Regions from separate parts of the Homo sapiens genome. Here all the other regions are linked to region 4. The links come from fine-mapping of genetic effects on gene expression. A gene starts in region 4. Each other region holds a variant in brackets. All regions are shown on one strand. Distances are between the middles of the regions.

Region 1 (8,264 bases), 21 kb after region 4:
AAGGCTAAGGTGCTTGCCCAAAATCAGACAGCGGCACATTCAGGAGCCAGGATTGTGGTTCCAGAGGTGGCATGCTTAGCTGCCTTGCAGCTGCCCCCACATGGGCCTTGCTCACCTATTCGTCACACTGATTCTGGTCTGTGTGCTGGGAGGAGGTGGGTACCACCTGGCACACACCATCGTGCAGAATGTGCCGAATCAGCAATACCAGTTTATTTATGTAACCTGAGATCTGCTGACTGATGGAAACCAAGCGCTGGCAGATGGATGGAAGATAGGATCAGGTGTTCTCCTCTGAGTCATTGACCTCCCCCCAGCTAAGGGGTGCTACAGTTGAGAGGGTCTGACAGTCCCCAGATGTCAGAGACCTGGGTCCCCATGGCTTTCTGTTCAACACCTAGCCTTGCCTGAAATACTTCAGAGGGTGATCTCAGGTTTTCACCAGAGAGAGGGAGATGTGTTTTAGAGGAGGCCTTTGGGTGGCCCCCAGACACTTGGAGACACTTTGTCAACCTCAGCATCAGGTGGGCTCTGGCCCAGAACCCCCTACTCCCACCTGAGCTCAGTTTGTCATTGTCATTATACATGGTGTGCAGAGGCCCAGAGGAGACTCCTGAAATTTTCAGAAGAGCCTGGTGTGGTGGTGTACTTGCAGAGTGCTTGAAACAATGCCTGGACCAATCATTGCTTGCCCCGGTGTTTCAGGCTGTGTTTCTCCAGAAGCCAACTCTGAGAGAAGGGCAGGGAAAGGGCCCCTGGCGGTCATCAGCAGCATTAACTGAGCACTTACCACGCGCCAGACCTCTTCTGGGTGCTCCTGTGCTCCCCAGAGCTCCGGTTCGGGAGGGTGATTTTCAGCAGGAGCACGGTACTTGATATGTATTTGTTGAATGAATGGATCCTCATTAGGACCTTACAGGGCTGGGGTGATCATCCTCATTGTACTGACCAGGAAATCCCACTCCCAGAGAGGCTGCGCTTCGGGGCCAGGGTGACACAAAAAGGGCGCAGGGTGAGGTCTGGAGCTCAGGGCTTCTTGACTCTAAGCCCTAAACCTCCACCTCCACCAGGCCTAGGACTGGGACATGGGGCTGACTCAGTCTGGGGTGTCATTGGCAACGAGGATGTTGCTGAGCATGGCAGGAGTGAAGGCAGGACCCAGATGGGCAGAGGTGCAACTGGGCCTCAGCTAATCTTCATTGTGCTACAAAGATCCAAGCTGCTCTGTCTTTTGCTCAAAGCTCTCTCAAGTATTTGAAGTCAGTTTTCTTGTAGCTTTTCCAGAATTGTCTTTTATCCAGGTTAAGCATCTCCTGTTCCTCCCATAACATGATAAGTCTTTGGGAAAGACACCAGTTCTCTACAATGCTTCCAGAATGTGGGGCCCAGAGCTCCTTGTGGCACTAAGGTTGACTGCCCCATGGACGGCTGAGTGGATTTGTCACCTCCCTACTCCATGATCTGTATCAGTGTGGTCAAGATCACATTCAAGCCACCCCATGGACATCTGATTGAAACCCTCAGTCTGGTTCCCGTGGCTGTCAGGCTCTCCTGCTCCCTACATCCCCTTGCTCTGATCTTGGACATGAACCGTTGGCTTTTTCGGATAGTGCAGGATTCTTCCTCTGTCCCTGTTGCATTTTGTTTTTACCTCTCTGGGAGCCCAACTCTCCTCTTTCAGTAGTTACCCCCACTTTCTCTTTTGCACGTGTGAAGAGCTGCTTCTAGGTACTTTGAATCAGGTGCCACTGAGAACGTGGAACACTACCAGGGTGATCGTGTGAGTTCTTACCGTGCATGCTTATCTCAGAGGCTCATCTATGCTGCGTGCTTCTAACAGCTCATTATCAGTTTCAGACCCTTGAGAGGAGGTGGGAAGAGACCTCAGGAGAGGGGTCAAGGGATGGGGGAGGATGGAGTGGTACTTGAAATCCCAGCTTGAGACCTCCCAGCTGCCCCTACGGGGCATTGCCAGGGTGCAGAGAAGCTGCCTGGCTGGGAGAGGCCCACTTTGCAAAGCTCTCATGTATCTGCCCCTGCTCAGGGCTGAGGAGAGCAGAGTTTATCTCCTGATCCTCTCACGGTATCTGCAGGTTCTGTTGAAACAGGAAGGGGCCAGACCTGCTACCCCAGGTCACCATGGGGAGGGGGAGGAGGAGACAAGACCTCCTCTCCCTCCTCAGGCCCCTGCCAGCCTCCATAGCATTTCTCCTGCTCCAAGGCAGGCCAAGAAGAGGTGGGGTGGGTTGGGTAATGAACACCTGAACCAGGTAGAAAGTCGTTAACTCAAGAAGGGGGCATGGCACCTCACCCCAGTGTGTCCAACAGTAGTGCTTTTCAAACGTCAGTGTTGGAATCATGGAGGGTATGTTAAAACACAGATTACTGGGCTCTGACCCCCCAAATTAAGATTCATGAATTTGCATTTCTTTCTTTCTTTTTTTTTTTTTTTGAGATGGAGTCTCACTCTGTCGCCCAGGCTGGAGTGCAGTGGTGTGATCTCGGCTCACTGCAACCTCTGCCTCCCGGGTTCAAGCGATTCTCCTGCCTTAGCCTCCCAAGTAGCTGGCACTCCAGGCATGCGCCACCATGCCAGCTAATTTTTGTAATTTTGGTAGAGACGGGGTTTCGCCGTGTTGGCCAGGATGGGTTCAAATTCCTGACCTCAGGTGATCCGCCCGCCTCGGCCTCCCAAAGTGCTGGGATTATAGGCGTGAGCCACCATGCCCAGACTGAATTCACATTTCTGACAAGCTCTCAGGTGATGCTGCTGCTACTGGTCCACAGACCACACTTTAAGGAGCAGTATCTGGTGGGAAGGAACGAGCAATGGAAGAAGAGCTTTCTTTCTTTGCCTTCTGTCTAGGGCAGGGGCTGAGTTCATCATACTATCATTCATTTGTACACCAAGTCTTTTTTGAATGTTTATGACAGGTGTCATGAAGAGGTACAACAGGGAAGAGGGCAATCATGGTCCCTGCCTTAGTGGATCTTACGGCATCTTGGGGGCACAGATAATAAACACCTGAATCTGAAAATTATCCTTTGAGGAAGGCTGAGCAAGAATTAATTCCCCCATTTTACAGGTGAGGAGATGGCATCTCAGAGAGGTTACCTGACTTGCTGAATGTTACCCACATGTTAAGTCACAGGACTTGAACTCAGGACTTCTCAACTCAGAATCTGGCCCCTATTCCCTGGCTATGAGCCATCTCAGCTTCATGGGGCTGCATTTAGATGGGAGAGCTATAGACCCCGTGCATATGTTGCCAGTGGGTGAAAGCTGCGGGCTTCATCCCTGTGTATGGAAGAAGAGCTTAGACAGACAGATGGGTAGGCACACATTTTTACATCCCATACATATGGACTCTCAGTTCCTAAGACCTGAAAAATCACAGTTTCATAGTGAGTCACTTCCCCTCCCTTCCTCTCTGTTCACTTATCCCTATTCTCTCATTTCCTCTAATATTTGGCTTCCTCTCTATTCACTTCTCCCTATTCTCTCATTTCCTCTAAAGCTCTAAGCCTTGCACAGTGCGAGATCTGCCTAAGTGATGGTCATCCCTTCCAATCAATATGGTGGCTTCATCTCAATGGCAACCCCTGGAAACCCTGCCTTGGTGACCAAGGAGGAGCATACCAGGAGCAAATTATGAGCAAATTATGAGATCAGCTTGGTTCCTGGTTTCTTGATTCCTTGCTTCCTGTTGACCACGTGATAGGGAAAATCTCTGCTTTCTCTACTGCTGAGTTTCTCTGACACTCTAGTGGTGATCAAAACCGGCCCCAAATCTGATTCAGCAGGCTCATACAATGCCAGGTTGGTGAGATGAGCCCTCCCCTGAATCAACAGTCTCCCTTCTCTGTTCTCATGGAGCAAACAGAACGTGAGCCCCCCAAGGACGGAGCAACTCCTGGACCCCACTGGATCAACAAGGCTCATTCTTCTGGATCTCCGATGCCATGGTGCATTCTTTCAAAGGGCAGTTATAGAAACAAGCAGATCATTTCCCCAAAAAGGCCCATTCCTGTGTTTACCAATTGAAAAGTATGTCACTTAGGGTAAGCTTTCAGGACATAAGAATGGTCAGCAGTCTTGATGAGAACACATTTTATTGCAGTTAATTAAACATCATAAAAATGGATCAGTTTCACTGGCAGTTTAAATGAGTGAGATTCTTTCCAGAGTAGCTACGAAGGCTTTGGCAGATATTACCCCATTTAATTCTCACAGTAACCCCATGAGGAAGTTAATAT[C/T]GCTGCCCTATTTTTCAGAGGTGGAGAAACTTGCCCAGGGACAGGCAGCTGGTAAGTGGCACAGTGAGGGTTTAAATCTAGCACTCTGCTTCCAAAGTGTGTACAGTTTCACTCACACCGCTTTGTCTCTGTGTCTTAGGCACTTGACTAAATCAAGAATGAGTCTCCTCTCTAGCCCAGGCCTAATTTTTCTATTCTTTGAAAATAAGCCAGAAATTTCAGATCATTATGAATACCTTCTATACAGGGCAGGGGCTGATCAATTGAAGTGTTATTCTGCTGCTTTTTTTGTTCTCTGCTCCAAACCAAAGATTATACAACACTCAGATATTATCTTTTGCTTGAGTGGTTTTTGCTCTCTGCTTTCAAGATGACTCTGGGTAGATCGAGATATCCCACTTGTTTGGAAATTAGACACAGGTGGTGTAGGACATTGCGTTTTCCCAAGTTGGCCTCAAAAGTATCTCCTACCCGTATGTTTTTCTTACCATGTGACCTAGATGCCCCCTTCCCTCCAGTAGTGGGGTCTACAACCCCCCTGCACTTCAAACCTGCATGGATCTTTGTAATTGCCCTAGCCAAGTATGGCAGGCTGTTGCCATGTGACTTCTTCACGTTATTTTCAGAGACAGAGTCTTACTCTGTTGCCCAGCCTGGTGTGAACATAGCTCACTGTAGCCTCAAAATCCTGGGCTCAAGCGATCCTCCTGCCTTAGCCTCCTGAGTAACTGGGACTACAGGTGGACACTGCTACACTTGGATAATTATTATTATTATTATTATTTTGCAGAGGTCCTGCTATGGTCCTGCTATGTTACCCAAGGTGGTCTTGAACTCCTGGCCTCAAGCCATCCTCCTGCCTCGGCCTCCCAAAGTGCCAAGATTATAGGCATGAGCCACTGCACACCCAGCCTGCCGTGTGACATCTGAGGCTAGATTATAAGAATGCTATGAGCTTCCACCTGGCTTTCATGGACAGGATGCTAACTCTTGGAACTCACCTGCCATGTCGTGAGGAAGTCCAAATCATCCCACATGGAGAGGCCTGTGAAGGTGCTCTAGCTCACAGCCCAGCTGAGGTCCTGGCTGACAGCCTGCATCATCTGCCAGGTATGAGTGAAGATGCTTCCAGATGATTCTAGCTCCCACTCTCAACTTGGATTCTTCCCAGCAGAGGCTCCAGAAATCATAGAGCAGAGATCGCCTCTCCCTACTCTGCTTTGTCCAAGTTCTGGGCTATAAAATCTATGAGCATGGTAGCATGATTGTTTTACACCAGAAAGTTTTGGGGTAGTTTGTGACATAGCAACTGGTACAGAAATTATTTGCTAACAAGCAGGCATCTCTCTCAAGGGGGAAAGTCTTCTGGTTATCTTTGCACCCTTTTCTGGGGCAAATATGATTGGTAGGGATGATGCCCATCATAGCACCATTGCTTCATCAGAGGCCGTTTGGATCAATGAGCCCTTCCGTGTTCTTTAGTCACAATATGTTAATATATCTTACTTGTCCATTTCCCACTGACTAGAATATCAGTTCCCTATGATAAGTTTTTTCCCCTATTTTGTTTGTTCCTATATCCCCCAAACCCAAACTAGTACAGGTGCTCCTCACCTTATGATGGGGTTACCTCCCAATAAACCCGCCATAAAGTTGAAAAATCCTAAGTTGAACCATCTTAAGTTGAGGACCATCTGTGCTTGGTAGTTGCTCAATAAATAATTGTTGCAATAAAAAATTGTCGGATGAATGGTTATGAAACAAACATCTAGTGGGCAAAAGTTTTGATACTGATTTCTGGAGAGAATTTTGCTAACATTACCATGTTCTAGTTGTTATGATAATGTAAAATTACTTTCTGGATAAGGACAAGTTCACATTGTGGTGGTAATTTCTGGAGAATAATTGTTAAACGTTCCCACTTTTTCTTGAAATAACACAAAAGAATCATTAGGAAAGGTATAATGAGTGTTAGGGACACGTCAGGTCCATACTCAGGAGCTTGTTCAAGGAATTGGTACCTGGACACTCTCTAAAAGGATTTGATATCAGTCAACAAGGAAGAAGTGATTCGAGTAAACCTTCCTTTGTTGCCTGGCATATGCTGGGTATCATAGGGACCACAAAAAATGTAAGATGTAGATGCTGTCTTCAAACTGTGTTGAGTCTAGCTGGGGAGACATAAGATTGGAATCTATATACAGATAGCCCAGTAAGGCAAGCTAGGTCCAGTGGTGAAACTGATAGGGTTTCACCAGCTGAGGTCCCCAAGGGTGAGAGAATGTCAAAGAAGACTTCCTGGAGGAGGCAAGTTAAAGGGGATTATGGGTTGGGCAGGTGGACAGCTTCCTGATCCACTAATCAGAGGAACACTGAAACCACAGGGATCCATCAGAAATCTGCTGCCTGTTAACTCAGGTTTCCACCTGCAGCTTCTCACATAGCTGGTGGAAATGAAATTGGTGTCCCTTTTGCCAAAATAGACAATGCCCCTAAGTAGAAAGAAAAGCTACTCCTCCCCAGCACCAGCCTACCTCTGTGGGGGTATTTCTGCAATGTGCATTGCAAGTTGCTGCATCCACTGGCCAGTCTGGCTCTGAGATCAGCCAGCTGGCAGCCTCTGCAGTGGGCATGGCTGGGCAGCCTGAATTCTGAAACCAATTAATGCACTGCAAAGGACGGTTTACCAAGAAGGTATCTGCAAGCCTTAAAAAATATCTCCTAAAAAGTTGTCCACTTGTAGTCCCAGCTACTCGGGAGGCTGAGACTGGAGGATTGCTTGAGGCTATGAGTTTGAGGCTGTGGTGAGCTATGATTGCATCAATGCATACCAGCCTGGGCAACCAAGTGAAACACCGTTGCTGTAACCACAAGCGCCTGAAAACAAGCAATAAATATATCTAGAATAAGACTTGTTATTGCTTCTGCAGTAATTTCTGCTATTTACAAATGAGGGAGAGTGGGTGAGCAATGCTTTCCAGTTATGAGTCAGGGAAGAATCAGGAAAGACAATTCCAAAATCAGTTAGAGTCCTGTTGGTGCGTGTAATACATCTCCACTTTGAACATGAAGAAAGGGGGTTACGATTTGTATTAATGTGAAAATGGCTTCTTGCCATCCTCACTCAGTTGAAATGAGACATATTTGACTATCAATTTGGAAGACTGCCAAATTTTTAGCCTGCCCCAGGCATCCAAGTGTTTCTGATCCGTCCTCTAAGCAGGACTTGTGCCAGGCCACACAATCCTGTTGGTGATATAAGACTAAGAATTCATGTGGAATAACCTCGAAATGCCCCAAAGGCCATGAGTAGCTCCTGGAGTGAGGATAGCTCAGGGTAACCACAACTGGAGGAGCGGGTGTCAACGGAAGCCCAAAGGTACCAGCTTAGTGTCTCTGAACCATGACATTCCTGGCTGTTCCCTCCTTGACCAATTCTGTTCCATTCTGCAGATAAATATCTTTCTGAATGCAGCCTTGAGTGGAGCTGATCCTGCTGGTACCAGTAGCCTCAGCAGGTGCCCGCAAATATCTGAGACTGGTATCTGCCTGGCCAGGGCATTCATGAATTCTTTGCCCAGAGCAGGTGCTCAAGTTCAGTGCTCGATGCTACGCCGCCACCTGGTGGCCGTATGTTGCAAGTCTCTGGAGCTGCCTGCGTGTAGAGAGCCACTCTCCCAGGGTTTACAGGGATATAATTTATCCTCCAAACAGGAACATCTGTTTAGATGCGACACTGGTTGCAAACTAGGTCTATGCCACGGGGACATACGGTGACTGTTTTGGAGTCTCCCAGTTACTGGGATATGCATTCCGCCATAGGCTGTCATGTGACAGAGGTGGGAACCGGGAAGCGCTGCTCTGAATGTTTGTCAGTGGCTCGATAGTCCTCTTGCTCCTCCAGGGCGAGGTGTCTGGGTTGTGTCATTTCCTTCTGAATCAGTGCTATATGATTTGCTAATGTGAGGCCTTGGGCAAGGTATTCAATAAGGCAGCACTTTCAGGTG
Region 2 (8,264 bases), 59 kb after region 4:
TTTTACAAATGGAGAAACTGGGACCTAGTGAGGGGAAGGGACTGAGTCAAACCCGCACAGTAAGTGATTGGCAGAGCTAGCCTAGAGTTTGCACCCATGTCTTTAGACAACCAAGCTAAGGTTTTCTCCATCACCCCCTTTCATGTTTTGAAAGATTGGGTTTCAGCCAGGGGTGGTGGCTCATGCCTGTAATCCTAGCACTTTGGGAGGCCAAGGTGGGTGGATTATGAGGTCAGAAGTTTGAGACCATCATGGCTAACGTGGTGAAACCCTGTCTCTACTAAAAATACAAAAAGTAGCCAGGCGTGGTGGCGGTCGCCTGTAATCCCAGCTACTCGGGAGGCTGAGGCAGGAGAATTGCTTGAACTCGGGAGGCAGAGGTTGCAGTGAGCCGAGATTGCACCACAGCACTCCAGCCTGGGTGACAGAGTGAGACTCCGTCTCAAAAAAAAAAAAAAAAAAAAAAAAAAAGAAAGACTGGGTTGTCCTAAACATTTGCATGGCTCTCTCTGCCGCTGTCTCAGAACCTAATGCCTTACACTTTACAATCTATTTTAAAGCCAGCTGCAATCTATAGAAGGTTAGAAGCAGCAGATCAGAAGTGGAGAAGAGAGGTGCTATGGCCAAGCTAGTGACCACAGCCAGAAGTGGCAGCGAAAGAGATGACAAAGAGGGAGAATTCAAAGAACCTCAAACCCCAGGGATATTCTGTGCAAGGGCAAATGATACTGAGAGCATCCCTTCACACAGGGATTTTATAAGGCAGTAGAGAGCAGACTGCTATCTCGGACAACTTCAAAACCTGGGCTGGGCACAGTGGCTCACGCCTGTAATCCCAGCACTTTGGGAGGCTGAGGCAGGTGGATCACCTGAGGTCAGGAGTTTGAGACCAGGCTGACCAATATGGTGCAATCCTGTCTCTACTAAAAATATAAAAATTAGCTGGGCGTGGTGGCGTGTGCCTATAGTCCCAGCTACTTGGGAGGCTGAGATAGGAGAATCACTTGAACCAGGGAGGCGGAGATTGCAGTGAGCTGAGATAGTGCCACTGTACTCTGGGCTGGGCAACAGAGCGAGACTCCATCTCAACAAAACAAAAGAAAACAAAACAAAGCGAAACAAAACAAAACAATCTGGGCCACCACAGATATCGAGCCATCAACTATGTAAGAAATGGCTTATCTGAGAGGACAGCGTTCCCAGGAGCTGTGAGGGCTGACTTTGCTGTATAGACCATCGCTCTAGCCTTTTGTATGTGCAAATCTCATCTTCCCAGTGAAAGTGCAACTTTGGGAGAGCAGGGGCTATGCTCCAACCAAGTTTGGGCATTGTCAGGCAGTGGCTCTTCAGTTTGCAGTCTGGGTCCAGATCGCAGCTCCGTCAGTGACTATCCATGTGTCCGGGGCAACTTGCTTAACTTCTCTGAGCCTGCATGAAATGGAGATATTAATAGCAACAGCAGCTAGGTCACAGATCGATGGGAGGATTAAATGACATTGAGATTAAATAGCATTTACTTGGCTCAGAGTCAGTGGCCCAGTAAAGATTCAAAGAGTGAGCTCTGCAAATACCTGGGGGAAGAGAATCCAGGTGGAGGAAGGGCAAGGGTGATGGCTCAGAGGCAGGGGTGTCCCTGGGGTGTCTGTGGAACCTCAAGGAAGCCATGGTGGCTGGGGCAGAGCTAGCAAGAGGAAGGGAAGCAGTGGGTGAGACCACGGGGTTGGAGGGGAAAATTGCGTTTTATTTCACATGTTTGTTATTTTTGGGGTTTGCTTCTGTTTATGGAAAGATACTGATTTCCTATATCTTGCTGCTACAAAGTGCCCCTTTAAAATAATATAGAAAAAAGAATCAGTGTGGAAAAAAAACCAGAATACATTGCAGCTCACAAATAAGCAAAAGTCCTGAAGACTATTCCTCAGATGACTGAAATTAGGAAAATGAGGAAGGCAGGTCCCTCTCCCTCACATTATTTACTTAGCACAAGTAGGTTTGAAATTCCGAGGCTGAAGTTTTACTGGCAACCTCGATGTCACAACTGTGAACCTTGAATTCTCCTGATCTCAGAGCTTTCAAGCTGGGAGACTCCTGGATCATGTCATCCTTGCACCTCCACTTTACAGATGGAGACACTGAGGTCCAGGAGGGCAAAAAGATTCATGCAGAGGGTCTAGTTCAGAGGGAAGAACTGTACACAGTTTCTATGGGACTCAACTCCCCAGCTGCCCTCAGCCCAAATCCAGGGATTCAGACACACAGGCTCCCTCAGAGATGTCTTAGTAGGTTGAGGCAAGGGAAGCCCCTGCCTGTGCCGCTCTGGAGACCTTCCTTCCTGGCTGCCCTTATATCCCCCTGTGCATCCACCATTGATCAGAGAAGGCAGGCAAGGGAGGCCAGAGGGCATGGGGGGCACCAGGGGGCTGCAGGCCCAGGGGTTTGCTCTGGAGGCTGGCAGGGAAGGCGATGGGTCCTGGTTGCGCCCAGGTTCAGCTGAGGTAGTTCTGGTCAACCAAGTCAGGTGCTGAGATGTTCCTGGGGGGCCCTGGGAGTTCCTCTAGTGCCTGAGGGGATAGGACCATTGCTGCCTTGGCTACCACTCCCAGGCCAGGCAGTTCTAGCTGCAGCACTGTTAGCCCCTTGCCCCTTACAGCTCCCCTGGGAACTGGTTTCTATCTATGCCAGGGAGAAGGGGCCAAGCGTGGGTTCTGAAGGTCTGGGGAGCCAGGGCCAAACCTCTTCACCTCTGATGTTGCTTGTGTTGTGCGTCGCCTTGAATCACACTCTGGTAGGATGGCGGGGGCTCCACCGGCAGGCCTTTGAGATGCAATGGTGTATTCGGAACAAGGCATGCATCATCATTCTGCGAAAGAAAAGTCGCCGCCCCTGCTGCTCACAGCTGTGGAGCGACTGGCTGCTTCCGAAACACTTCTCTGCTAGTTCACTTCTGAAGACTCAAGTTCTCCATGAATGTGGGGAAACTGAGGCTTGAGAGACGAAGCGACTTCCATAGACCAGTGTGTGACTCCCTCCACCCTCCCTGTTCTTGAAAAGGGAGTAGGGGGAGGCCCACATGGGAGTCACTGGATGGGGCTCTGGTTCCCGTCCCGCTACCAGTGTCCTGGTGACCAGGTGCAAGTCACTCACCCTGTTGGGTTTCCTGAGGGGGGCTGGGCCATGACCCAAGTCCCTTCTAGCCAGGATACACTCTAGGGGCAGGTCTAATGCCAACAGTGTCTGCCAATGATTGCTGCCACACCTCCATCCCTGATTAGTGATGAGGGTGGCACCAACTCAGTGCTGGAGAGCCTGTCCCTGGCACCATCCTTACCGATGGGGAGGGCACAGGGCCCATTGGGGAACCTGGCATGGCCACTTACTGGCTGTGAGACCATGGGAAGTCACGTAACTCTTCTAAGGTTCATTTTTTCCTCTTTAAAATGGAAAAGCAGAACCTGCGTCCCAGAATGGCCGTGAGATTCAAGGACATCTTAGCTAGTGCAGTAGGGAGAAGCACGGCCCCCAGAAGACACCCATGTTCTAATCTCTGGTCACACGGCAGAGAGGAATTAAGGTTGCAGATGGAATTAAGGTTTCCAATCAGCTTTGAGATTGGGAGATTCTCCTGGATTATCTCTCTGGGCCCAGTATGATGATAAGGGTCCTTAAAGGTAGAAGAGGGAGACAGGGTTATTGGAGGATGTTGTGATGCTGGCTTTGAAGGTGGAAGAAGGAGCCACAAGCCAAGGAATGCAGGCAGCCTCTAGAAGCTGGAAAAGGCAAGGAAAGAGATTCTTTTTGATGCCCCCGGAAGGGATGCAGTCCTGGCGACACACCTTGATTTGAGCCCTTGAGACTCATTTCAAACCGCTGACCTCCAGAGCTGTAGG[G/A]TAATACAGGTGTCATTTTAAGCCACCAAATTTGTGATAATTTACTACAACATCAATAGAAAATGAATACAGCCACCTGCAGCACTAGCACAGTGCCTGGAACACAGCAAAGGTCAATAAATAGGAACAATTATTGCTCATAGCTGCAGCTAGGTATGGGGCCCCAGTTTTCCCCATCCTTAAAAGTGGGGTTGGCCTCAGTGACTCAAGACCCCCATCTGGCTTTCTGATGTCTTAATGAGAAGACTTCCTGTCAGGCAGCTAGGAATTAACAAAGACACCTTCTCTGCTTGATGTTAAATGAAACTCAGAGGCCATCAACTTATATATGCATTATGTGAACACTTGGTGTGTGATGAGGTCACTAACATGAAAATCAGTGTCAAACTTGAAGAATTATGGGGGATTTGGCACTTTTTTAAATAATGTTCTAAAGTTGAGATTGTAATATGATTTTTTTTTCTTTAAAGAAATGAGCCTTAGAGATCACTTCTGGTCAGGGTCTTTATTTTTTATTTATTTTTTTTCTTTTATAAAACATCCTTATCCTGAACTGTTCAGGATCTTTGGGGTGAGCAGAGACTTGCCTTCTATTTTAAAATATATCTAGCCCTATGCCATCCCCATGGGTAGACAAGGGCAAGACTGTGGGTTGGACATAGCTCAGGCTGAGTCCTGGATTTCCTAATTGGCTGCTTCGCCTTGAGAAGTGATGTGACCTCTCTGGACCTCAGCTTGCTAGTCTGTAGTATGAGAATGTAAGTACCTCAAAGGGTTGTTGAGGGCTGGGCATGATGGCTGATGCCTGTAATCCCAGCACTTTGGGAGGCCATGGGTGGTGGATCACTTGAGGTCAGGAGTTTGAGACCAGCCTGGCCAGGATGGCAAAACCTCATCTATACTTAAAAAAATACAAAAATTAGCCAGGTATGGTGGCACATGCCTGTAGTCCCAGCTACTTGGGAGGCTGAGGTAGGAGAATTGCTTGAACCCGGGAGGCGGAGGTTGCAGTGGGCCGAGATCGTGCCACTGTACTCCAGCCTGGGTGACAGAGTGAGACTCAGTCTCAAAAGAAAAAGGGTTATTGAGAAGATAAAGTTAAATACAGCTATATTTATCTGTATATCTGCACGTCTATATCCATCCATACATCATCCATCCATCCATCCATCAATGGATGCATCGATTGATGCTTAATAGAGTCCCTGCAATTCCTTAAATGCCCAATCTTTGATGACTCTGTCACTTGTTTCCACTACAGCCAAACTCCACACACACCATAGCTTCCCCAGGCCTTCTCTGTCCTGTCTCCAAGCCAGTGCTCGTGCTCTTCTTGCTCTGCTGAAAGTCTCTCTTCCACCTATGCCTGTGGGTCCGAATCCTGCCCGGTCATCATGGGCCTCTGTGATGCAATTTCCCCAGGGCCTTCAGAGCTGGCAGCACAGTAGCCTCTTGTTCTGGGCACCCATGGAGTTTCCTCTCTGGCAGCCTCACCCTTTTCTCCTTGGATTGGCCTCCTCTCTTGCCCCCGTGCCTTGGCTCCCCTACTGGATCGTGGGCTGTCACTTAGTGAACGCTCAGCAACGTGAGGAATGAATGAAACACGCTCCTCTTGTAACCCCCACATATCTTTCCTTTCTGAGCTCTCTGCTGCCTCATGCCCCCATTTTTTGTCTTCCTGGGAAGACAAGCCCTTGTCTTACCTTTGCAGATGGGCAGTCCCCTCTCCAGGCTGTGACAGCTGTGGGCACTGGCAGGAAGAGCTCTAGGACAGTGAAGCAGAGCAAGGCCAGCTCCAGCCTCTGGATGTGGACCTGAGAGGGTAGAGGGAAGGAAGGCAGGGTGAGGCCTCGCTGGGTGTCTGCACGCATCACGTGGGCTTAGCCAGGCAGGGGTCCTTGCTAAGATCCACAGCAGAGGGCAGGTGGGGTTTCAGCTCCCAGGTGTGCGTGGGGAAGGCAGGGTGGGTCTCTGTGGGACGGGGACTTGGTCTGTCTTGGTCACTGCCCTACACTCAATGCCTGGCACATATGGGTCTTTGGTGAGTATTGGCCTAACGTTTGAGGGCTGGAGAATCTCATGGGTCCCTGGTAAGAATGAAGGTAGCCTTAGGGTCATCTGATCCAAGCCTATTTGACAGATGGGGGTACCTAGTCCCAGAGTGAGGGAGCATGTTTTACAGCAGAGGAGGGGAAGAGCCGTGCAGCTGGGAGTCATCTCATAGTATCACATGCATTTGATGGGGAAGCATATGTATATGTGTGTGTGTGCACGCACATGTGTGTCCATGCATGCTCGCACATGCATGTGATGTGCATGTGTATGCACGTGTGTGTATGTGCTGGGAGGAGATAAGGAATAACAAACCACTATGGTCAGAACCCTTGTGGGCATGGTGGCTCACGCCTGTAATCCCAGCACTTTGGGAGGCTGAGGCGGGAGGATCACTAGAGGTCAGGAGTTCGAGACCTGCCTGGCCGACATGGTGAAACCCCATCTCTACTAAAAATACAAAAATTAGCCTGGCGTGGTGGTGGCTGTGGTGGGTGCCTGTAATCCTAGCTACTCGAGAGGCTGAGGCAGGAGAATTGCTTGAATCTGGGAGGCGGAGGTTACAGTGAGCCTCGATTGTGCCACTGCACTCCAGCCTGGGTGACAAGAGTGAGACTCCGTTCCCCCGCCCCTTCCAAAAAAAAAGAAAAAAGAATTCTTGGAGCCTGGCCCAGAGGCACCCAGTGGTCTGCCTTCTGCTTCAGAGGCAGCAGTGATATGGTGAAAAGAGCACCAGGCTTGGAGTCAAAGACCCACTAATCTAGCCTCTCTGGACCTCCGTGTTCACTCCCAGAAGATGAGGGTAACAAAGTGGACTTGGCCAGCTTTGCAAGGCTGATGGGAGGCTCCCGGATCACAGGGGCCACCAGGCACACCATGCTTAGAGCCCTGGCTGGGAAATCAGCAGTTTTAGGCTGTGGTCCTGGATTTGCCGTCAAGTTGCTGCTTGACCTCAGGCAGGCTCCTCCCCGTCTCTGGCCCCATTTCCCAATCTATAAAAGTGGACTTGGATTCAGTGATGCTGACCAGTCAGCAGCCCAGCACCCACCTTTCCACCACACCTTGTAGGGGACAGAAACAGGTTGGCAAAGGGCCCAGCAGCCCACACCTGGGCTCCAGGAGGGGCTTTCTGTGAGCTGGAAACCTCCTGTTGGCCAAATCCAAGGCAGCACCTTCGCTGAAGTCAGAGGGCCCTCCAGGCCTGGGTACTCACCGTGGAGTTGGGGTACATTCTCCAGATCGGGGACTCAAATGGGCTCTCCAGAAAGAGATCCTTGGAGATGACGAAGAGGCCAGACAGCACGCAAAAGAGGCTGATGAGGTTTGTCATCAGGCACAACATCTTCTATAGGTGAAAAATAAAGGTAACAGCTGTCCAAAGGGTGGAGACCTGGGGCTAGGTCCTCCCCTCATGCTTGCCAGTAGCTTCCTCTGTAGCCTCAGGAGAGACTCTGCCTGTCACTGGGCCCAAGGCCCCCTCTGCCTGTCACTGGCCCCTCAGCCCCTCACACAGGATTGAGCTGAGCTGCTCCTGTGTGACCACTGAGGAGGGTCCAGCTGGCCCTTGCCTTCTATGGGACAAATTGGGAGAACCCAAGAGCTGCCTTCAGATCCAAGAGCTTTGCAATAAAGGATGCCCTATTGCCATTTCCTGCTCAAAGCCAGCCCCGACCATCCTACATCAGCTATGCCAAGTGTCAGGGATTCGACACCCAGGTGACCCCTCATCCAGCCCCTTCCCCACCAGAAAGGTCAGGAGGAGCTCTGAAAGTGCCCTATCCTCACATGTCCCAGTACCAGCCCATTTTCTCCGCCCACCTGCCATGGTTCCTGAAATGCCTGTATTCATCGTCCTCTCGGGTTAAGCATCATTCCAAGAGCCTCTTGCCAAGTGCAAATCCTCCTAGTGAGGAAAGACTATGCACATATGGAATCTGTAGCCTTTTATACTGGAATGGGTTTCTTTACAGTAAGAGTGTCCTTATGCTCAGGTATACAAAGCAAGAGGCCTGTGGTTCTAAAAGGGGCTCAGCCCAGGAGGGTGAGGTCTGGGGAATGGGCACGTCTTTGTCAAGCATCTCCTGCCTCTGCTGGGTAAACTGCACAACCATCCTTCTATTCTGTATGCCCTCTGAGAAAGTAGGGAGCAACCACAGCCTAGCCAGGCTGAGGGACACAAATAGGGAAGGACCTGGCTTGGGCTTCGGGGGCAGAAGGAGGGGAGGTGGGAAGACCTGGGTGTGAGCTGTGATTTGCAGGGATGTTCCTTCCATCATCCATCCACCTCCACCCATCCAGTCTTGTGCTAGGTGTCTACTCTGTGCC
Region 3 (8,264 bases), 35 kb after region 4:
ACTGCACAGAGAGGCAGGGAGATTGATGGTCTCAGGGAGCCCAGAGGCACCTGCCTCCTGGAAACCCTAATGCAGGGAAGGTTTGCCATGAGCATTTATGGCTTGGCACAGTGGGCCATGTACCAAGTGTCATGCGCGTCCGTGTGAAGAGAGTCCATCAAACAGGCTTTGTGTGAGCAACAAGGCTGTTTATTTCACCCAGGTGCAGGTGGGCTGAGTCCGAAAAAGGAGTCAGTAAAGGGTGGTGGGATTATCATTAGTTCTTACAGGTTTGGGATAGGCGAACAAAGTACCTTCTTAAGGGTACTTTGAATATTACAAAGTACCTTCTTAAGGGTACTTTGAATATTACAAAGTACCTTCTTAAGGGTACTTTGAATATTACAAAGTACCTTCTTAAGGGTACTTTGAATATTACAAAGTACCTTCTTAAGGGTACTTTGAATATTACAAAGTGGTACTTTGAATATTACAAAGTACCTTCTTAAGGGCAGGGGAGAATATATTGTGTCAGTTAGGGTGGGGCAGGAACAAATCACAATGGTGGAATGTCATCAGTTAAGACTATTTTCACTTCTTTTGTGGATCTTCAGTTGCTTCAGGCCATCTGGATGTATACATGCAGGTCACAGGGAAAATGATGGCTTAGCTTGGGCTCAGAGGCCTGACAACAGGGAGTAATGGGGCTTATGGGAACAGAGAAAGGCATCTAGTCCTCCCCACTGGGCTCTGCATAGGTTGGTGAGATAGGATTTTAGAAGGGGGCCACTAAAGATTCCTAGGTACCTGCCGGGCATGGTGGCTCATGCCTGTAATCCCAGCACATTGGGAGGCCAAGGCAGGCAGATCACCTGAGGTCAGGAGTTTAAGACCAGCCTGGCCAACGTGGCGAAACCCTGTCTCTACTAAAAATACAAAAATTAGCCGGGAATGCCCGAAAGATTCCTAGGTAACTGGTCCAGTACTTTTCAAACTTGACAGAGGACATGAGCGCCTAGGGATCTTGTTAAGCTGCAGACTGACTCAGCCCGTGTACGGTGGGGCTTAAATTCTGCATTTATTTATTTATTTATTTATTTATTTTTATTTTTAATTTTTTTTTTGAGATGGAGTCTCCCTCTTGCTCTGTCGCCAGGCTGGAGTGCAGTGGCGCAATCTCGTCTCACTGCAACCTCTGCCTCCCAGGTTCAAGCGATTCTCCTGCCTCAGCCTCCTAAGTAGCTGAGACTACAGGTCTGTGTCACCATGCCCAGCTAATTTTTATATTTTTAGTAGAGATGGAGTTTCTCCATGTTGGCCAGGATGGTCTTGATCTCTTGACCTCGTGATCCTGCCCGCCTCGGCCTGCCAAAGTGCTGGGATTACAGGCGTGAGTCACCATGCCTGGCCTGCATTTTTTTTTTTAAGAGACAGGGTCTTGCTCTCTGGCCCAGGCTGGAATGCAGTGGCACCATCATAGCTCACTGCAGCCTCCAACTCCTGGGCTCAAGTGAACCTCCTGCCTCAGCCTCCTGAGTAGCTGGGACTACAGGTATGTACCACCATACCCAGCTAGTTTTCCTTTTTAATTTTTTTTTCCTTTTTTATATCTTGTTGCATATCAACATTTTTTATTTTTAGTAGAGACAAGGTCGTGCTATGTTGCTCAGGTGTTCTCAAACTCCTTGCCTCAAGAGATCCTCCCCTCAGCCTCCCAAAGCTCTGGGATTGCAGGCTTGAGCCACTGGAGCTGGCCTGAGACTCTGCATTTCTAACAAGCTCCCAGGTGATGCCAAAGATGCTGGTCTCTGGCCCATGCTTGGAGGTGGGAGGGACTAGTCTCTCATTTTGAAGATGGAGAAACTAAGACTGAGAGAAGGAGGCAACCTGCCTAAGTCACAGGGCTGCTAAGTGATAGATCTGGATCTAGAAATCAAGTCCCAGGGGCTTTTGTTTCATTGTAGTGGCTGAGCGCCTTGACTTGAGTGTTACCCTCGGGGTAAGTCCCCAGGGACACCACCTTTCTCCTTCCTCGGCTGCATATATTGGGGCAGAGGCCCTTTGCCACGACTCCCCCCACCACACGCTGTGAACCAGCTTCAGCTCTTTAGCTGGCCGCCTCAACAGCCCAGTGCCTCCCCTGGGCCATCCAATCCCATGTGGGGTGGGCCTGGAACTTCCCCTCGAGCTCAGAACAGTTCCACCCCCTGCAGCTTCACTCCCACTTCACAGACTCAAACTCCCTCCCAAGGGTGCAGGGAGGATCTGCAGTCCTGGTCTTTGCAGTCCTCTCTGTCTCTGGGCCACCACCAAGTGGGATCTCCAGGGTCCTCAGGAGCACTCCTCCTGCCAGCGGGTACAAGTAAGTGGTGGGGAACTCGGTGGAGCTCGAGGAGGCAGCCAGGATGCGGCCCGCCCCCCAACCTGCCAGCCACCAGTTGCCAGCAGCTGATAATGATCTGCAGGGCCTGGGGGTGGAGGGGGGAGGGCGCAGAGCTAAAGCCTTGGGCTTTCGGGGTTGGGGCTGTGTCTCCCAGGACTTGAGTGGCTGGGCAGGTCTCTGTGCACATGTCTCTGCCGAAAAGGATCTTAGACAAACTCCCCATCCACCTCCTTCCTTGGCAGCCAAGAAAACAGAGGCCTGGAGAGAATAAGAACCTTGCCAACTTCCCCAGCCAGTGAGGGCAGGCGCAGAACCAGGCCTCTTCGTCCCAGGGGCACCGCAGGATTGCAGAACCCTAGAAAGCTTGGGTGAGGGCCATCTCAGGCATCAAGCCCAACACATTGGTTACCTCCAAGGTGCTGGCCCTGAGTGCACCGAGCTTGCTCTGTGCACCAAGTCATTTAGCTCTCACCACACCCATGAATGGAGCAGCACCCTGCTCATGGCATTCTAGGGACGAAGCTGGGGTCTCAGAGTGGGATCGGAGCCTGCCTCTGCCCATGTTCCCTAAGCCTCCATACCGCACATGCAAGCCTGTCCTTCCAGGGCACAGGGTTGACTCAGCCTAGGCTGAAGCCCAGAAGTTTGCGATCATTTGTCTCAAATAGGCTTCTCTGACCTGAGAGCAGCACTTTGACCTCACCCTCAACACTCCACCTCTCTGTCACCCAAGAGGAGTAGCTTCTCCCAGCAGGCTCCGCTCCTCCCATCGTTTCGTGCTCAACGGCAAGGTAAAAGAGACCTCATTTTCAAAACTGGGACCCAGAGCCACACATGCAGAGAACGGAGGAGCTAGGATTCCAGTGCCTGGCTGGGCCCATACTCTCTGCTCAGCTGCCCACATTGACATCAGCGGGAGACAGGCACAGACTTCTGCCCACACGTGCTGGTCTCACCACTGACCAAGACCCAATCAGCTACAATGAGGAGAGCCTTGATGCAGGGGTGCGGCATCAGAAAAGGAAAGCTCCCGGTTCACCCCAGAGTTGCCTTAGAGCGATGGTACCCAGCTCCTGGGGCCTGGCAAGGGGGACATAGGTTTGCTCTCGTATCCTGGATTCAAGCAGTGCTTTCCAGGGCAGTGGCAGCCCCAGCCCTTTGCTGCTAATTTTCAGGGCTGGAGGCCAGGAAGGAAAACCCCAGCAGCTCTGTCTTGCCTCCCTGCTGCTCCACAGTCCCTCCACTGGTATGTACCCTTGGCCCCATAAATTCTACTGACTGCATCACTGTTGGGATTGGCAGTGGCTGCACAGGTCTGTGGAGACTGGGTGATCCACTTACTCCCAAGATGGTTGGCTGTCCCCGGAAAAAGAGCTTCTCTCTGCTGGGGTGGGCATTGCCCAGGGTCTCAGCCTACCAGGATGGCTCCTCTGGGCTCTGCCATGGCACCCCTGAGTTTTCAGAAGGAGGGAGCCTCACTAATTGCTGCTGCCCTGTCAGCTGGCTTCAGAAGGCAGGTGGGCTGTGGGCTGGGCTGCCTCATGTCTCCTGGAGGGAGCTGGAGCCTGGGTCTTGCTTTTGACATTTCAGACACCTGCAGCACACACAACTGGGGTCCCAGGATGAGGAAGAACATTCACAGGCAGATCC[C/T]CATTTCCTGGGTCTCAGTTTTCCCATCTGAAAAGTGAAGCTACGTCACCAGGAGGAGTGATTGGTAAAACATGAATTGTGTGTAATTCTTAGCAGCTAAAAGCAAAGGTCAGGATGTCCACAGAGAGCAACGTGGTGGCTCTTAGACACAGGCTGAGAGGGGGAAAAAAAGAACCAAAATGAGACAAAACAATACCATACACACAAGTTAAATATGTGTACACTAATATCCTGTAACACAACATGCATTAAAACGTGCTGAAGTTGTTACCTGGGGCTGGAAGGCTGTGGGGAATGGAGGTAAAAGGGAGTTAATGAGACAGAGGTAAGGGAAGAAGTTTGGACCTGGTGACAACCACTACAACCTCATGCTTACCAGCATGCATTTATAATGTGGTAAGCCCAATCTCCATTTCACTCTTATGCAAACTGAGGACCAGAGAGGTTAAGTAACTTGCTTGGATGACACGGTTAATAAATAGTGGAGCTGGGATCTAAATCCAAGACAGCTGGCTAGAAAACCTGGGTTTTTTTCCTGCTTTACGATACATCCCCACTTATCTCCCAGGCCATTCCCTTCTAGTCCGCCAGGCTAGTTAATAACACCACCAACTCCACAGCCTACACCTGTCTGTATGGCTTGTTACCACTTACCTGGAGTCTTCACACATGGTCCTGTGCTTAATTACTAAGCCTCCTGTGTGATGAGGCCTGGGAGCAACCCTCCAGTTGGCTCAGGTCAGACAGACTGTAAATAGTCGGGCCTATATTGGAACCCATGGCTTCTGACTCCTGTCCAGTGTTCATCCCACTGCCTCCCTAAGCAAAAGTGAGAGACATTAAAAGAAAAATAAAAAGCAACACAAAAACAAAAAACCGAAAACATGCCTCCAATTCTAAGCAAACCCAGGAACAGAGAGCTGGGAGGTCCCTGGGATCCTAAGGCCTGAAGCTCTTGACCTTCACCTGGTCATGGGGCTCTCTGTCCAGCAGCCTGGACACATCTTCACCTCTCCTGATATCACTCCTTCTCTGCCTCAACCTGTGCTCTCACTGCCCTCCAAACATGCTTCACTGAGGTCATTGCTGAGCCTTTGCACAAGGCGTGTCTATGCCCTGCAACCCATTCCTTTTCCTTCTTTCTCCACCTGGTGTTTCCCAATCTTGCTTGATCATAAGAATCATCTGAGCACTTGCTGAAAATACAGTGACTTGGGCCTCACGTTTGGCCTTCTGAATCAGACTCTCTAGGGCAGGGGCCTGGGAATCTCCACGTTTAACATACCCCAGGTGACCCTTTCGATCAGGCCAGTTTGCAGGATACTGGCCCATCCAAACCCTCCCATCCTTCAGGCCCTGGTGGGTTTCAGTGGTGCCTGTGAGGTCTTCTGGCTGCGTAGCCCTCTGTGTTGATGATACAACCCCACACCCAAGCAGGTTCGTTAACCTCCCTGAGCTTTCATTTGCTCATCTCAAAAAGGGGGCAGAGGAATCCCTATTCCATGGGATCTTGTGAGATTAAATGGGATACTACATGCAAAGTGCCCGTGCAGTTCCCAGCACGTGGAGGTGGCTGCATCCATGTTAGCTTTTTCTTTCCTGCCAGACACAAATCAGCTGCAGAAATAATGGACTAGGGCCCTCTTGAGGCTTAAAACTGTGCTCACCCCTTGGGTCCTATAGACCTGTCTCAAACAGCTTGAGATGAGTCCTCGAGATGAGGCCGTCTGAGATGCCCACCTGTCCTCTGTGGAAATATGGGTACACCTCTCTGAAAAGCCTGTGTGTTTCTTTTGTAAGTGGGTATCTGCTAATCCTGACATCTGTCCAGGGCCATGTCTGAACCTCGGCAGTGGATTGGTGGGGCTGGCATGCTGGGAAGGCACCCCGAGCCTCAGGCTCATGGCTTCATGGAGCCCGTTGCAAAAGCCCTGCTCCTCCTGGCAGGTCAGCCCTGTTGCCACTTTCTCACTACTCCCTTAACTCTTTCTGGATATTTTTGGAGGAGTTATTTTTCTAGACTTCTCTGTCACCTGTTTGGGCCATGACAGTGGGGTAGAGCAACCATCAGGAAAAGCTGGTGGGTGATGCTATTGTGGGGATAGAGACCCCTACAGGTGATAGAGTTGGCAGAAGGAACTGGGAACATTCCTGACCATTCAGCAGGAGTTGGCAGGAGACTGCCAGTAGATGGAGGACTGTCTGGAGAGGGAGGAGACCCGGCTGCTTCTACTAACGGTACTGTGTGACCTTGGCAAGTCCTTTCCTATCTCGGGCCCCCACTTCCTCATCTGTGAAATGGAAGCATTAGACCCGATCATGATCCCCAAAGTCATTTCTGATTCTGACATTCTTAGTTTCATGGTTGGGATCAACTATACATTTCTACTATAATTTTTAAAAATTTAAACAGAAAAATAGCATCCATTGTCCAAACATGTGTGACTTCTGTGTCTAATACTTCTGAGGTCCTGCCTGGGCTCTGCCGATATTACCATATAATCCACATTTTCGGCAAGGCTCGGGGTCTCACTTGAGTTACCCACGGATTGTGCTGCACGACAGCTGCACTGGAATTCCAGTAAGTGTGCTTCCTTATGACAAGCCGTTCGACTTTCTGATCCTCAGCTTCCTCTTCTGTGTAAAGGGGGTGGTATTGTCATGGCCAGTCCACTGTAGGTGCTGGATAAATTCCTGCTGTTTCCTTTCTGCCCATTCAAGTTGGGGAGCAGGAGCCTGAGCCCAGCCCCAGCCATGTGGCTGCTCTTTCCTTAAGGGTCCTCCCCAGACACAAGCCGAGAGGAGGGCAAAGTTAGCAGATTTTTTTTTTTAAGAGATGAGTCTTGTTATGTTGCCCAGGCTGGACTTGAACTCCTAGGCTCAAGGAAGGAATCCTCCCGCCACAGCCTCCTGGGTAACTGGGACTACAGGTGTGCACCACCACGCCCATACAGATGTTTTATTCCAACACATATTAAGTGCCAGGATTACAAAGTTAGAAAAATCCCCACTAGTCTCCCAGTCTAGCAGAATTAACACAAATAACAGAAACTGACCCCATTCAGCTTCAAAAGGAAAAGGTTGGCTAACCAAGGACATAGTCTAAGGAAATTAGTCCCCAAAGATGATTAATCAATGGGATGGAGGATCCAGAAGGGTGTCAGGACACAGCTGAGCACTGCCAGGAGAAACTGCCATGTGAGTGCCACATGTCCAGTGTGAGGACATGGACCAGTGTTTGGGGGGACCTAAAGGTTCTTCATTGATCAAGCTTCACAAAGAATAACAAGTTTTCGGGATCTCCTACCTGTGCCATCCTAGGAATAAAGGCAGGGAGATAAGCCCCAGTCTTTGACCTCCAAGAGAAACAATAACAGGTCTGAGGTTCAAGTCCTGGCTCTGCCACTAACATTCTGTGTGATAGGCCAGTTGCTGCCTTCCCCAGGTCTCAGTTTCTCCATCTGTAAAATGAGAGTGATGGGCTAGAATGACTGGTAGATTGCATCCACCTGTTAGGAGTCATGCTTGTATGATGCTGTGACTGTTCTGGTCTTCTAAGGGAAGGAGTTGGAAAGTTATTTTATTGATTTGAGTCTACTCATGTTTTCAAATAAAAACATCTAAGACTATCAATGTCCCTCAAAGAACTGCTTTAGCTGCATCCCACAGATTTGTATATGTTATATTTTCATTTTCTTTCAGCTTATTCATTTTGTAGATGTGGGAACTTATAGCCAGAGAGGAGAAGTTTCCCTTCCCATTGTACCTCCCCAACATCTCCCCCTCCATCCCCAAGGCCACACACAGTGGGCAAACGGCAGGGCAAAACACTTGACTGGCCGTCTCACTTCTACTCATTTATTTTTTTGGACAATATTTGATGAGAATTCCACTTTTAAAATATAGATTTTGACTATTTGAACAAACTGTTGAAATCAAGCATACTCAAAGGTACATTGTGTTCCAGATTTGACTATTGGAATCCATTAATGTGTTTACTTGGGATTTTTTTTTTTTTTTTTTTGGTTATTCTTTTTTATTTTTTTTTAATTTATTTTTTTATTGATAATTCTTGGGTGTTTCTCACAGAGGGGGATTTGGCAGGGTCATGGGACAATAGTGGAGGGAAGGTCAGCAGATAAACAAGTGAACAAAGGTCTCTGGTTTTCCTAGGCAGAGGACCCTGCGGCCTTCCGCAGTGTTTGTGTCCCTGATTACTTGAGATTAGGGAGTGGTGATGACTCTTAAGGAG
Region 4 (5,000 bases):
CTTGGAGGAGGTTGTAATTTAGGGACTAGGGCCTGAGCCTGAGTGCAGCTGCATCTTTCTCCCAGTCCTGGGGGACACAAGCCATGGGATAAGGCAGGGCACGGCTCTTCTTCAGAAAATGCCTCTGGGCCCTGCTCATCTGGAACTTGTTTTGGTAACTTTAAGCTTAGTAGCTTTTTTTGTTTACTTAGTAATACATTTTCTTTAGAGAGAACACACACACTGGGTTTTCTTTAGAGAGGAACACACTCGCACTGGGGCTGGACATGAGTCACTACAGTGATTACAGGACTGGAAACAAGGACTGAGAAGGGGCAGATGAGTAAGGGTTTTTTAGCCAGAAAAGAAGCACCTCAGCAGGGTGGCCAGGAGAGGTTGTGCAGGATGTTCACTGTACAAGGATACCAGTGGAAGGGTCAAGGGTGGGCTGAGATCCAGAGGAAGGGCTGTGCCTTATCTCAAGCCTGATGCCCTGGTGCTGAGATGTGTCTGTGGGGTGGGGTGGTGGGGAAGGGGTGATTCTTTTTCTTAGTCCAAAGATAAATCTGGGCTCCAACCCCTGTCCTTTGAGGGTGGGACTGTGCAGAAGGAACACCATTTAAAGTTCATATTTTACTGCTGTGAAGTTACTTGCCCAAGATCACATAGCTGAGGAGTGGCAGTGCCAGATCCAGACACTGGTGGTCTGGCCCCAGAGTCCCTGGGCTTAACCACAGCCTGACACTCTCTGTGCGCAGACAAGGCACACGTGGCCTTGTCTGTGGTTCAGTGGGTTGGGTGTCCGGGGTGGGTGGAAAAGAGGGCACTTTCCCCATGCAGAATGGAATCATCCACCTATGTTCTCTGGAGGGCTGCAGGCATTTGTCTTTGGAAATCAAGCCTTCCCTGACCTGGAGGAGAGGGGACATTTTCCTATTGTTAATGATTTGGATCACCAAGGCTCTTACTGATCTGCCATATTGGGCTACAGTGAGATGTATTATCCCCATCACAAGGGCATAGCATTTTACTCATTTTCCACTCATGATGGTAGCCTCTCAGCAAGAGCGTATTATGCATTAGTCTCTGCGTTAAGACTAGGCCTAAATGGAAGATGCTTGTGCTGTCCATCTCATGGGAGGTGCCTTTGCCTCGATACAGGGATATTGAGTTCTTAAAATGTTTTAATGAGTATCCATTAGGTGCTGAGATGCTGAGGTTGAAGGGATGGTCCTGACCCCAGGAAGCTTGGTCAGCAAATGAGAGTAAGGAGTTAGGGAACAATGAAATGCAAACTTCTCTTATCCTAGGGCTTTGAGCCTGTGTGTTTTTTTGTTTGTTTGTTTTTGTTTTTTAGTTTAAATTTCCATTTTTTTTTTTTTGAGATGGAGTTTTTACTCTGTCACCCAGGTTGGAGTGCAGTGGTGTGATCTCGGCTCAATGCAACCTCCACCTCCTGGGTTTAAGCGATTCTCATGCCTCAGCCTCCCAAGTAGCTGGGGTTACAGGCATGTGCCACCACGCCTGGCTGAGTTTTGTATTTTTAGTACAGACAGGGGTTTTGCCACATTGGCCAGTCTGGTCTTGAACTCCTGACCTCAAGTGATCCATCCGCCTCGGCCTCCCAAAATTGAGCCTGTTTTAAATAAAAGCTATATGACCTTTGCCTTAGAGCCTATATTCATTTTTCCCTCAGAGGAGAAGGAAGCTGATTTTTATAAGCACTTACTGTGTGCCACGAGCTTTGTGCAATCCATCTCATTCAACCCTTACCACAGCCTGTAAGGCCGATGTTACTGCTCCCGTTCACAGATGACAACCCCAGGGCTCAGCAAACAGAAGTGACTGACCTCTTGGACTGCGTTCTTGCCACTGCCCCCACTACCCCACTGTACTTTCCTGGCCTTAGAGCCCTCGGGTCCCTCATGGACAGGCCCCCACACTGCCTGGGAAACTCAGAACAGCTGGAGGGGTTTCTTCTCTGAGGATTCTGGTGTCGGGAGATGGAAGCCCAGGAACAGTGGACAGATGGATGAGACATTCTCCTTCTCACGCACTTATCCTACACACTGGTCACTCTCAAAAGCACACCCCTAGTCACACTCGGGCTCACACTCTCTTGCACACATCGATTTTTTCACGTGCACTTGCACTGCCCTCTGGACTTCTGCAGTCTCCTTCATGAAGCGGGGATGGGTGGAGCAGGGGCTGCCGGCATTGATGGAAATTGATGATATTTGAACATCTGTGTGGCAACTCACTCTCCAGCTGTCCCCGCCTCCCCCAACCCCACCCCTAAACACACATGCACTGGGGCTGACAGCTATTTCCTCTCTCAGCCTCCCTCTCCCACCTCTGTCTGCCCGCTGCCTCTTGTCTAGCTGCTGTCAGGAGCTGACTGCCTCCAGGGCTGGAATCCTGTGCTCCCTCTGTGCCCAGGTAAGGAGGAGTGGCCCAGGGGTTGGGCAGCCTAGTGCCCTCTCTAGACCCACAGAAGAAGGCAAAGTTTTACCAGGTGAGAGGGCTGTTACCAGCTAGGATGGCAGAAGATTGAGTTTACCAAAGACTGGAGGGGACTTGGTGCTCAGAGGAGGGAAGGATTAGCTTCTCTTAGGCATTAACTAGATGTCAGATACGAGGGGAAACCACTCAACTGTCTGTCAATATTCACAAGCAGTCTGGGTGGGAAGATGACACCAGCACGCTTAGAGTAACTGGCCCAAGGTCACGCAGCCAGGAAGCTGAGGAGCTGGGATTCAAACCCAGGTCTTGGACTCCCACAGCTTGCACTCTCTGTCCCTTTTTTTTTTTTTTTTTCTTAACCTGCCAAAGCCGGACCTTAGCTGCTTGGCTCCTGAGAATCCTGGGAGGCTGGGGGCTGTCTCTATAGAGTTAGAAGGACTGATCTGGTGGTGCCCAAGGGTGTGGCAGGACTGTGCTCTCTGATCATCCCCATAGGACTTGGATCAGCAGCAGCTGGTCTGCAGGGAATGTTTCAGGGCAGACAGCGGGTGGTACTTGGCTATCTGCTGGGAGTGAAGTCCCAGCCCCACTGTTGCAGCTGAGGAACGCTGGGCAAGTTGTTGTTTCTTCTTCTGAAAAATGGGGTGTCATAGGTTCATTGCAAGAGTAACTGCTCTGCACATTCTAAAGCCTAGGAAGTATGACCATTCTCAGGAAGCACAGGCTCCTCTTCCATCTACCTGCAGGTCTCTAGCTCCAAGGGGCTCCTCCGCCAGCAGAATTCTAGTTTGATATTCCAGAACCCCACTCTACAAAGGACTGTGGTCTCTGGAAGGGAGTGGGTTTTCTCATCCTGGCCAACAGTGTTTTCCCTAGAAAGATGAGTACTGAAGACCATTGCTCCCCTCTCCCGCTTTTCTTCCTCCTCCTCCATCCTCTCTTCCTTGGAGTAGGGGTAGAGGAAAGAGCACAGGCTGAGCATGAAACTTTCTCCTCCACATGTTTGTGCTGTCTGGGTGGCTCTGGGCCAGTTATTTAACCACTTGAGGCTCAGTTTTCTCATCTGTAAAATAGGATGGAGTACTAGCACCATTTTTCTAGAGCCAGAAAGACAGCACCTATGTGAAGGACCTACCATAGTACCTGGAGTGTCATTGGTGCCCAGGACACCCTGAGTCCCTGTCCCCTGCTACTTGCCTCCTACCTCCTGCATGGAGCCTCATGGAATTTCCTCAGCCCTCACTGGTCTTGACCAGCCTCACATCAGATGGTCTTTCGGGCTTTCAATGAGGATGTAAGCATGCACGTCTTATTTGTTGGATGAGTGCATGATGGAGTAAGTGAATGAACAGGGGTGGGTTTCCTGGGGCGGAGAGAGCTGCTGTGGCTGCTCCTGAGAAGGGAGAGATCTTTTGGCCCCACTGGGCCTCCAGAGCCCCATGTGGGAGTTCCTCCTCCCCAGCTCTCCTGGCTCTTATCTTATTTCCTCTCCAACCATCAGAGGAGGGGCTGGTTCCACTGTTTATGGTCGGCACATCTAACCAGCCACCACTGAGTGCGGGGAGCTGCATGGAGGATCTGTAGAGAGGCAACATCTGGGGGCGCTGTGGATGCTGTGGGAAGGGGCAGCATCTCCATCGCCCAGGCCAGCAGAATCCTCTTGCCCTAATTGTGGGGCCTCCTTCACCCGCCAGTGCTCTGGGGATGGGAAAAAGGAGTCCTGTGTGGCCTGACCTTGTTCCTTTTTCTCTGTGTGATCTTAGACCATTTGCTCCATAATCATCACAATGACACTGATAAAGTGCTTGCTCTGTGCCAGGCCATGTTCTAAATGCTTTTATGTATTAAACTCACTTAATTCTCCCAATAACTCTATGAGCTAGGTGATGTTATGACTGACATCCAAGTTTCAGAGGCAGAAAAAGGCTCGGGAAGGTTAAATGACTTGCCCAAGCACAGCAATGCTGGGATATTATTCCCCCCACCCCCACCGCCCAATATATTCGTGGGTCACATTGGCATCTCCTGGGCAGGGTCCCACTCCGGGCCTCTCTCTTGGTTCCCCGGTGGCCTCTGCACTTCCAACTTAGGCGCCTCCTTCCCTCCACTGCAGAGCCCCACGATGTCGGCCAACGCCACACTGAAGCCACTCTGCCCCATCCTGGAGCAGATGAGCCGTCTCCAGAGCCACAGCAACACCAGCATCCGCTACATCGACCACGCGGCCGTGCTGCTGCACGGGCTGGCCTCGCTGCTGGGCCTGGTGGAGAATGGAGTCATCCTCTTCGTGGTGGGCTGCCGCATGCGCCAGACCGTGGTCACCACCTGGGTGCTGCACCTGGCGCTGTCCGACCTGTTGGCCTCTGCTTCCCTGCCCTTCTTCACCTACTTCTTGGCCGTGGGCCACTCGTGGGAGCTGGGCACCACCTTCTGCAAACTGCACTCCTCCATCTTCTTTCTCAACATGTTCGCCAGCGGCTTCCTGCTCAGCGCCATCAGCCTGGACCGCTGCCTGCAGGTGGTGCGGCCGGTGTGGGCGCAGAACCACCGCACCGTGG

Direction of the effects. Alleles are on the strand shown, and positions count from the first base shown. SD is a standard deviation of normalised expression in the study named. Not every link is listed here.
For the expression in subcutaneous fat of the gene that starts at base 2,337 in region 4, A is the high allele of the variant in region 2 and G is the other (moderate effect, 0.41 SD a copy in FUSION).

The links. PIP is the estimated chance that this variant, and not a neighbour inherited with it, causes the effect. A credible set is the group of variants that fine-mapping cannot tell apart.
Region 1: its variant is the best candidate, but not a certain one, in a credible set for the expression of PTGDR2 in monocytes (TOPMed, PIP 0.70).
Region 2: its variant is the best candidate, but not a certain one, in a credible set for the expression of PTGDR2 in subcutaneous fat (FUSION, PIP 0.90).
Region 3: its variant is the best candidate, but not a certain one, in a credible set for the expression of PTGDR2 in whole blood (TOPMed, PIP 0.51).

What each region holds. Positions count from the first base shown.
Region 1 is chr11:60,830,818-60,839,081 of GRCh38, reverse strand. It overlaps LOC105369322 (a long non-coding RNA gene), which reads left to right and starts at 2,943. Exons shown (of 3, transcript XR_950149.3): 1 at 2,943-3,086; 2 at 5,048-5,367. The variant C/T (reference allele first, on the strand shown) is at 4,258.
Region 2 is chr11:60,792,992-60,801,255 of GRCh38, reverse strand. It overlaps MS4A10 (membrane spanning 4-domains A10), which reads right to left. Exons shown (of 8, transcript NM_206893.4): 5 at 7,153-7,284; 6 at 5,591-5,701; 7 at 2,742-2,860; 8 at 1-1,428. The coding sequence ends at 1,347. All of the region lies in intron 2 of LOC105369322 (a long non-coding RNA gene), which reads left to right. Among named protein-coding and RNA genes, the nearest start is that of MS4A10, 12 kb to the right of the region's middle. The variant G/A (reference allele first, on the strand shown) is at 3,888.
Region 3 is chr11:60,816,163-60,824,426 of GRCh38, reverse strand. The region is part of intron 2 of LOC105369322 (a long non-coding RNA gene); the gene reads left to right. Among named protein-coding and RNA genes, the nearest start is that of CCDC86, 22 kb to the left of the region's middle. The variant C/T (reference allele first, on the strand shown) is at 4,013.
Region 4 is chr11:60,853,287-60,858,286 of GRCh38, reverse strand. PTGDR2 (prostaglandin D2 receptor 2) reads left to right here and starts at 2,337. Exons shown (of 2, transcript NM_004778.3): 1 at 2,337-2,418; 2 at 4,556-5,000. The coding sequence starts at 4,565.